Linked DNA regions of Homo sapiens: regions 1 and 2 are each linked to region 3. The links come from fine-mapping of genetic effects on plasma protein levels. A gene starts in region 3. Each other region holds a variant in brackets. All regions are shown on one strand. Distances are from middle to middle.

Region 1 (2,761 bases), 39 kb before region 3:
TGGACAGTGCTACACTGGCACAGCTAGATCCTCACATTGCTAACTCCCACAAAAACAGTAACTTCTATGAGCACTGCTTTTTTTTTTTTTTTTTTTTTTTTTGAGATAGAGTTTTGCTCTTGTTGCCCAGGCTGGACTGCAATGGCATGATCTCAGCTCACTGCAACCTTCACCTCCTGGGTTCAAGCAATTCTCCTGCCTCAGCCTTTCAGGTAGCTGGGATTACAGGCATGCGTCACCACGCGTGGCTAATTTTGTATTTTTAGTAGAGACAGGATTTCACTATGTTGGTCAGGCTGGTCTCGAACTCCTGACCTCAGGTGATCCACCCGCCTTGGACTCGCAAAGTGCTGGGATTACAGGCGTGAGCCACCATGCCCGGCCAATTAGAATTGCTTTGATGTAGCTTTGTCAACTGGTTATGTGAGTATGTTTTGCATTGACCGTGATTACATGGTGTGCCAAATCAAGCCTCTCTTTATTAGAAGAACAAATATAAATACTTAAGTCAAAATTAGAGTTCAAGTCAATTATTTAATGCCTTTATCTTAAACCATCAAAGACAGCAAGATTTTATATCCCTAGACTTTTGATGTGGAGTAAGGTATTTTTATTGAGAATTGCTAGTATTATTTATAAGTGTATGACTAGATAAATCATCACTACATATAGAATCAATATAACTTTGTAAAACTTTATGCATAAATAGGATATATATATTAGTGAAGTCTCCAGTGAAGCAGAATCATTGGGGTATATATATGCAGAGAGAGATTTATTTTAAGGAATCAGCTCATGCAAGTGTGCGGCTGTCAAGTCTGAAATCTGTAAAGCAGGCTACAGACTAGAAATCCAGGTAAGAATTGTTGCAGCCTTGGGTCCAAATTCCATGGAGCAGCAAGTTGGAAACTCAGGCAGGGTTTCAGTGTTGCAGTCTCGAGAATCCTTCTTCAGGAAACCTCAGCCTTTTATCCTGAAGGCCTTCAAATGATTGGATGAAGCCCACCCTCATTATGAAGGGTAATCACCTTTACTCAGTCTACTGATTTAAATGTTAACAACATCTAAAAAATACCTTCACAACAACATCTAGACTGGTATTTAATCAAACAGTTGGATATCATAGCCTAGCCAAGTTGACACATAAAATTGACCATCACAATAGCTAAGAAATTAAGAATTTCTTATCTGTTTGTCTTAGGCTCCATTTGGAATGGAAGCTGAATATGCACATCCTTTGGAGACTCTAATTCTTGGAACTGGATTTTTCATTGGAATCGTGCTTTTGTGTGATCATGTAATTCTTCTTTGGGCATGGGTGACCATTCGTTTATTAGAAACTATTGATGTCCATAGGTGAGTATTAATTTCTGTTCAGGTATAAAGCATAATGAAATATATTTATTTTCATGGCCATAAGATTATCATATTTCTAAGGAGACTAATAGGAGAAGTTAATCTTCTTAATGTTATATTAAGAAAACATAACTGTTGGATAAAAGTTTAAATAATAGATGTTTTTACATTCTAGCCTATGCTGTTATAATTTTTATAGTGATAATGTGTTATTAGGGCAAGTATATATTCAGGACCAGCAATTTCCTTATCCTTCTGTAATAAACCTAAAC[T/C]TAACTCATATTTGAAAAAAATATCAAAGCATTCAGCCTTCCTTGAATAAGACTTTCTAATCTCTACTGTTCAGCACTGATAAAGGCACTTGCAAGATGAAACTACTACTTGTAACACATACATATTTCAAATGCATCCTTTCTGTTGATTGGAAGACATTTTGTGGTAAATTATTTATATTGAATGCCTTCTTAAATGCTTATCCTAATTGTTCATTATTTTTTAATTATATGTTCATTGCATTTTGACTTGGGACATACTTCTGTACTCATGAATGCAGAATATCAAATTCTAAGAATTATTTTTAAAGTGCTAAAGTAGCAAAATTAATGCTTCTAGTCCTAGGCAGAGAATATTCTTCTGTAGAAAAATTGTAATTGACATTTCTTTCTTTTTTTTTTCTATCCATTGTTTCTTTCTGCCTTCCTTCCTCTAAGCTCCTCAAAGGAAGAGAGGGTTAGAGTGATTCAAATAAGTATAACTGGATGTCTGATTGTAGATATGTAGTTGGAAATAAAGGAGCATACTTTAAATGGGACTCTTTTTTGAAGCCATTTGTCTTCTGCCAACTATAGAAAAGTACACTGGTATTTTGATTAATTGTGGTACATTTGATTCCAACTTGTCATTGCCTAAAAAAGTAAATGAAGTTGCTATACAGGGATTCATGGGCCTGCCCTTTTTAATACTTGATACTAATTTTATGTGACTTTTCCTAAAAAACATATTTAGTATTTTGGGCTTTATTTACAACTGTTATACATGATGGTGAGAAAGCTTCCTCTAAAACATAAAAGAAAATTAATTCTTAAAAATCTGTGTCTAAAGATTCATTACTATAATCCGTCTCTTCCATCATTCATATATTTTATCATAAAATAAATGATTTTCTTAGTTTTTTTAAGGATTTTTTTTCTTAGAGTGGTTTCTAGAATATACACCATTTTCTGTGTTTGCTGTTTGTGAACACTTAGAAATAAAGTGGTCTAGGCAAAGTGGCATGTTATCTAAATTGGTTAATGTGAACACATGATTATTAATAAAAACAACAATCATTTGAGATGTATTTATTCCTTAATAATCTTTATCATTTTTGTTTCAGTGGTTATGATATTCCTCTCAACCCTTTAAA
Region 2 (2,767 bases), 120 kb after region 3:
TAGAATACTCCAGCTTTTCAGGGACAAGGTGATAATAAGAAGGAACCAGCAATAGAACTGACGGTAGAAAATGAAGTGTGTTGTACTGAAGGTAGAAAATGAAGTGTGTTGTCCTGGAGGCTTTGAAGTGCTTCAAGAAGAAGGGAGTGAAAAAGCGTTAATTAAGATGAACCTTGTGAATGAATCCTTGGATTTAGCAGTTCAGAGGATCTTGAAAAAATCTGTTCAATGGAGTGAATGGTGGGATCCTGATTGGACTGGGTCCAAGACAGAATAAGAAAAGAACCATTCTGAGATTGAGAACATGAACAAACCTTTCCAGAAATTTTGCTATAAAGCAAAAAGACAATTGAGGCACTAGCTGCAAGGAGATGTAGATTTAGAGGTAGATTTGATGATACGGTGATGGGGGCTTAATTTTTTTGACTGTACCTATTTTTGCAATGAAATAAGATGTAAAGTAACAACTGGGAGGTTGAACAGGATGTGTAGGGGTGTTAGGAAAAAGGAGAAGGTGTGAAGTGTCTACGAAAACCTTGCTCTTCAAAGTGTGGCCTCTGCTCGCAACCTTAGCATTGCCCTGGGGCTGGTCAGGAATGCAGAACCTGGGAGCTGGAATCAGATTTTTCATTTTACCAAGTTCCCAGGTTTGCACCCAAGTTTGAAAATCACTGACTTAGGTAAATGGGAGATTGAATGGACTAGGGTGCCCAGTGTATTCTAAGTCTTTAGAAATCTAAATTTCTAACTAGGACCTCAGAGATCCTACAAGGGCTACCTTTGGCCCACACTCTGTGAAGATTCTCTGACCAGCAGGTCTTCACCTGGCAAGAATCAAAACATGATGGCTGTATGTTCTGACCCTGCTGCTTGGGGAATTCATCTGTCTTTTTACCTGTGTTGCTCCTGATGTGATTAGAAGATCTATGATCGTACGAGGTTTATTAGACAATTTAACATTGATATCTATAAAGTAGCTATAAGAAATGAAGCCTGTAAAGAGAGTTTCACACCCTATTCAATAAAATTTCATTAAATTCCCTATATATTTACTTTAAAAATCGAGAATCAAAAAAGGTGAACTGAGCTAGACTGGGTATTCCTTAGATGGCATAATTATGCATTGTGTAATTCTGCATATTTCATGTGCTTTGTGATTTGATATTCTGCCTTCCTACAGCAAAGGATGGTGATTACTGGAGATTGCTTATACCTGGAAACTATAAACTTACAG[C/T]CTCAGCTCCAGGCTATCTGGCAATAACAAAGAAAGTGGCAGTTCCTTACAGCCCTGCTGCTGGGGTAAGTAATCATAATAATAGCCAAACGCTATAATAATAATTAAGCATTTATCATTGTCAGGCATACTGAAGTGATTTATATTTAATCTTCGTACTAGCCCTATGAGGTAGGCAACATTGTTATCTCAACTTAACAGATGAGAAAACTGAGGCTTAGCAAAGTTAATATGAAGCTCTATTACCATTTCTCAGTTTTTGAAGAGATTTACAAGAAAATGAAATAAAACTTTAAAAAATTAAATTTTTATTTGCTAACCTTGATTTCCATCTCAATGGGATTATGTTTCATTTGCCTTTTTATCTTTAGCACCTAGCGCAGTGCCTTTCTCAATAAGTATTTGAAAAAAAAATGATGCATATAAGAAAATTTTAGGTGGTAACCAAACACTTATTTAGCATATTTTATGTGCAAGGCTCTCTGTGCTAAGTAGTATCAAAAACCATATCTTATTTAAGTAGATCTCATTTGTTTGTTAGGAAGGTGATGGTGATAAGACCAAAACTTCTCTTAGAGCAGAATTTTACTACTACCTTTGTATTATATGCCTGGGACCGTGGGAATACCTGTAGGATTTCTTGAAAGTCTAAAAAGCTTACTTGAAAAGAATTTATTATTATTTTTGTTTATGTACCCAAAACTTGGAGTATAAATGCTTGATTTATGCAAACAAAATATCTTGAGTTTTTAACTGGTATATGGTTTTGATTGTGTGCATGTATGTCTACATTGGGCTGTATATGTATTAAAATCAAGAGGTATATTTGGGTAACTGAAACCTGGAAAAAATGGCCCTGGGAACAAGTTGTAAAGGTTCAACTATTTTGATCCTTTGTCTTTCTGGCATGTGTTAGTGCAAGGATATAGTCAGTGTAATCACGATCCAAAATAATCAGGCGTTTAAGTGGCCAAATCAAGAAACTCTTAGTTCCATCTGGGATGGGGCCTGAGGGGATTGGGGTTGGGGGCTGCCTACTTTGAATAGCCTTTTATGCGGAGTGTGTGGCTTCTCCCTAGACCTGATGAAGATTCCCATTCACAAAGAGAGTGGCTTGGACACATACGTGCTTTTGTCAGTTTCTTTAACAAATTCAAGATTCTGGATAGCAGAACCTTGTGGTTTGGGATACCAGCATGCTGAACTGTATTCTTCCACATTCCCTCCCACATTAGGAAAAGATTCAAGGCTGACAGGAGGTGCTCACTAAATAACCAAAGGCAGAAAATTAACTATAAGTTACATCCTCTTTTTTTCTTTTCTTTTTTGAGACAGAGTCTTGCTCTGTCGCCCAGGCTGGAGTGCAGTGGCACGATCTTGGCTCACTGCAAGCTCTGCCTCCCGGGTTCAAGAAATTCTCCTGCCTCAGCCTCCTGAGTAGCTGGGATTACAGCGTGCGCCACCGTGCCCGGCTAATTTTTGTATTTTTAGCAGAGATGTGGTTTCACCATGTTGGTCAGGCGGGCCTCGAAT
Region 3 (2,770 bases):
TTAACCTCCTACTTCTGAAGTTATTTGGTTTTAGCTACTCAATTTTTTTTTCTAGGCTTCCAAGGTTGCTGTTTTGGGCATGGTTTTAGAAATATAATTATAAGTTTGATTTCAAACTTCTGGACCATGTAATCAAGCACAGACTGGTCATAGTGGAAAATATACAATTTTTAGCTCTGCCTACATTGACAAAAAAAAAAATGGCTGGATCCACATCAATTCAACTTGAGTGCCATGTGTTTACAGTGACAGTTTCTCCCCGAAAACGCAAAAAAAAAAAAAAAAAAAAAAAGAAGATCCATGCTGCTGTAGTATATGTACATAGGGGTGTTTAAAGCCAGCCCCTCCAGCAGCACCTTACCAACCATGTCTGTGCTTTTATTTATTGATCCAATAAGATGACTTAAATATCTAACTCCTTTTCCACGTAAAAGTTTTTATTATGTGCAATGCATTGTTAAACAGGTGAAGAATGAACAAGTTTAGAAAAACAAAGAAGCTTAACATGGAAAATTACCCGCATGGTGTCCACTTTTCCTGCTCGGTTGCAATACCCAATGGATTATTTATTAATTTAGATTTGTGCTGTCCCTGAATCCAAACAGCAGCCTCTTTAGAGTAACATCTGCTCCAGACATTGCTCCAGGAATATAAATCCCGACTAAGGGGTGGATATTTAAAGCTGTAAATGATTTTTTATTTTTACAATAGCTTTGCAAAAGGAACGGAGGTGTCATGTCATCATCAGAGTTTTCTTAACAGGATTTAATCTTAATGCCAAACTAAATCCTTTGTCTAAAGCATCAGCAGAGTTGTACTTATTTTCCCCATAGTATTAAAGAGGAGGGCTGGTGCAGGCACAGCCATATGACATTGCCTTATTTATTTTGTCTGTTTGTTTTCTGGAAGAATCTAGGAATGTGCATAAATACAATTAAGGACAGTATCTACAAATTGGAAGAAAGCATTTCTATTCTCTTAAACCTCTAAATCAAAGCACTTAATGTTCTGATTTCCAGCAAGACCTTCTAATAAATGAAAACCCAACCCTTGGGTTTGTGTTTTGACTCTTGATACAATTATGAAAGACGCATCAGGAGATGGCAAGTGGCTGCCAGTACTTCCTTTTTTCTGGAATATTCTCTAATTCTTGGTGGATCAAGATGGAAACTGGTAGGCTTGGAATAGATGTCCCTTTAAAAGGCTCCACTAACAATACAAGAATATTTTTTCCATACGCAGTGACGTGGGTGGGTCATGGGTGTCTCAATGACAGTAACGTTCCCGAACCCCGGACCTTAGCTGTCATTTCACCTGCGTCGTCCCGGACGCCATTTGGCTGTTGACGTGGTTCCGAGCCAGCAAATAACGCCAGCAGCCCTCCCAGATCCACGCCGGCCCGTCTCTCCGCCGGCCCCCTCCTCGCAGTGGTTTCTCCTGCAGCTCCCCTGGGCTCCGCGGCCAGTAGTGCAGCCCGTGGAGCCGCGGCTTTGCCCGTCTCCTCTGGGTGGCCCCAGTGCGCGGGCTGACACTCATTCAGCCGGGGAAGGTGAGGCGAGTAGAGGCTGGTGCGGAACTTGCCGCCCCCAGCAGCGCCGGCGGGCTAAGCCCAGGGCCGGGCAGACAAAAGAGGCCGCCCGCGTAGGAAGGCACGGCCGGCGGCGGCGGAGCGCAGCGATGGCCGGGCGAGGGGGCAGCGCGCTGCTGGCTCTGTGCGGGGCACTGGCTGCCTGCGGGTGGCTCCTGGGCGCCGAAGCCCAGGAGCCCGGGGCGCCCGCGGCGGGCATGAGGCGGCGCCGGCGGCTGCAGCAAGAGGACGGCATCTCCTTCGAGTACCACCGCTACCCCGAGCTGCGCGAGGCGCTCGTGTCCGTGTGGCTGCAGTGCACCGCCATCAGCAGGATTTACACGGTGGGGCGCAGCTTCGAGGGCCGGGAGCTCCTGGTCATCGAGCTGTCCGACAACCCTGGCGTCCATGAGCCTGGTAAGGGCGCTGCCCCCTGACAGCCCTGGGGGCATCCCGGAGGGGGGCGGCAGAGGGTGGGACTGGTGGCGGTGGGGGAAGGAGGGAGGGATGGGCCCAGGGGTGCCTCTTGGTAAAAGGTATCTAAGGTGGAAGGTGGGAAGTGGAGGGAGGGATGGAAATGGGGAAGAACCCGACTTAGAGCGCCAGTGGCCCAATTTCTGCTTTCCCGTCCCATCCCCCCAGCACCAATCCCATCTCCCCAGACCTTAGGCCACCCTCTAGTAAGTATAGGCTTGGGAGGCTGGGGTGGCGGGGGATGGGGGGGATAGCAATACAGAAAAAACAAATCCTGACGCACGCAACCCCAGCGGTCGCTCTCACTTTGCTGTGTGAAAAACCCAAAGGAATGATTGCGAGTCCCCCGCAAGGGGGGTTGGTCTTCCTTGCTGACAAGAGTAGAAAGATAAGGTGCAGAAGGCAGTGATTGAGAGGAAAGGAGAACGAGGGAGAAAGAGTCATTTATCATGTTTTCTCTAATTTCCAGAGGACCAGTTTATTGGCTCTGTGTACCCATCTCTACCTGTGTGTGTATACGTATTAGGTACACTCGCTGCTGTGGATGCTTGGGGAATCTTAGGGATATTGCCAATCTGGGGTGGTGGTGTATAAAGATACGTTGGTGCCCCTCCTCCTACCAGGGTGAAAAGTGGTTTCTGACTTTTGAAACCAGATTTTGAAACTGCACAAGGCCTTTCCAAGGAAAAAGGAGTATTCCATTTTCTCTGCTATAACCATTTGAGATGA

Which allele goes with the higher level. Alleles are on the strand shown, and positions count from the first base shown. The strength of an association depends on the size of the effect and on how common the allele is.
With allele T in place of C in region 1, the plasma level of the protein whose gene starts at base 1,464 in region 3 is lower (strong association).
For the plasma level of the protein whose gene starts at base 1,464 in region 3, C is the low allele of the variant in region 2 and T is the other (moderate association).

The links. PIP is the chance, under the fine-mapping model, that this variant and not a neighbour inherited with it causes the effect. The UK Biobank Pharma Proteomics Project read protein levels with antibody pairs (Olink). The fine-mapping took linkage between variants from a reference panel, not from the people measured, so its PIPs are less certain.
Region 1: its variant is fine-mapped to the plasma level of the CPE protein (UK Biobank, PIP above 0.99).
Region 2: its variant is fine-mapped to the plasma level of the CPE protein (UK Biobank, PIP above 0.99). The variant lies in the coding sequence of CPE. If it changes the protein, the assay may bind it differently, which can mimic a change of level.

The regions. Positions count from the first base shown.
Region 1 is chr4:165,339,020-165,341,780 of GRCh38, forward strand. MSMO1 (methylsterol monooxygenase 1) reads left to right here. Exons shown (of 6, transcript NM_006745.5): 5 at 1,202-1,356; 6 at 2,732-2,761. Among named protein-coding and RNA genes, the nearest start is that of MSMO1, 13 kb to the left of the region's middle. The variant T/C (reference allele first, on the strand shown) is at 1,629.
Region 2 is chr4:165,494,379-165,497,145 of GRCh38, forward strand. CPE (carboxypeptidase E) reads left to right here. Exons shown (of 9, transcript NM_001873.4): 8 at 1,181-1,299. Among named protein-coding and RNA genes, the nearest start is that of MIR578, 110 kb to the left of the region's middle. The variant C/T (reference allele first, on the strand shown) is at 1,235.
Region 3 is chr4:165,377,545-165,380,314 of GRCh38, forward strand. CPE (carboxypeptidase E) reads left to right here and starts at 1,464. Exons shown (of 9, transcript NM_001873.4): 1 at 1,464-1,984. The coding sequence starts at 1,678. RefSeq lists a silencer at 1,497-1,756.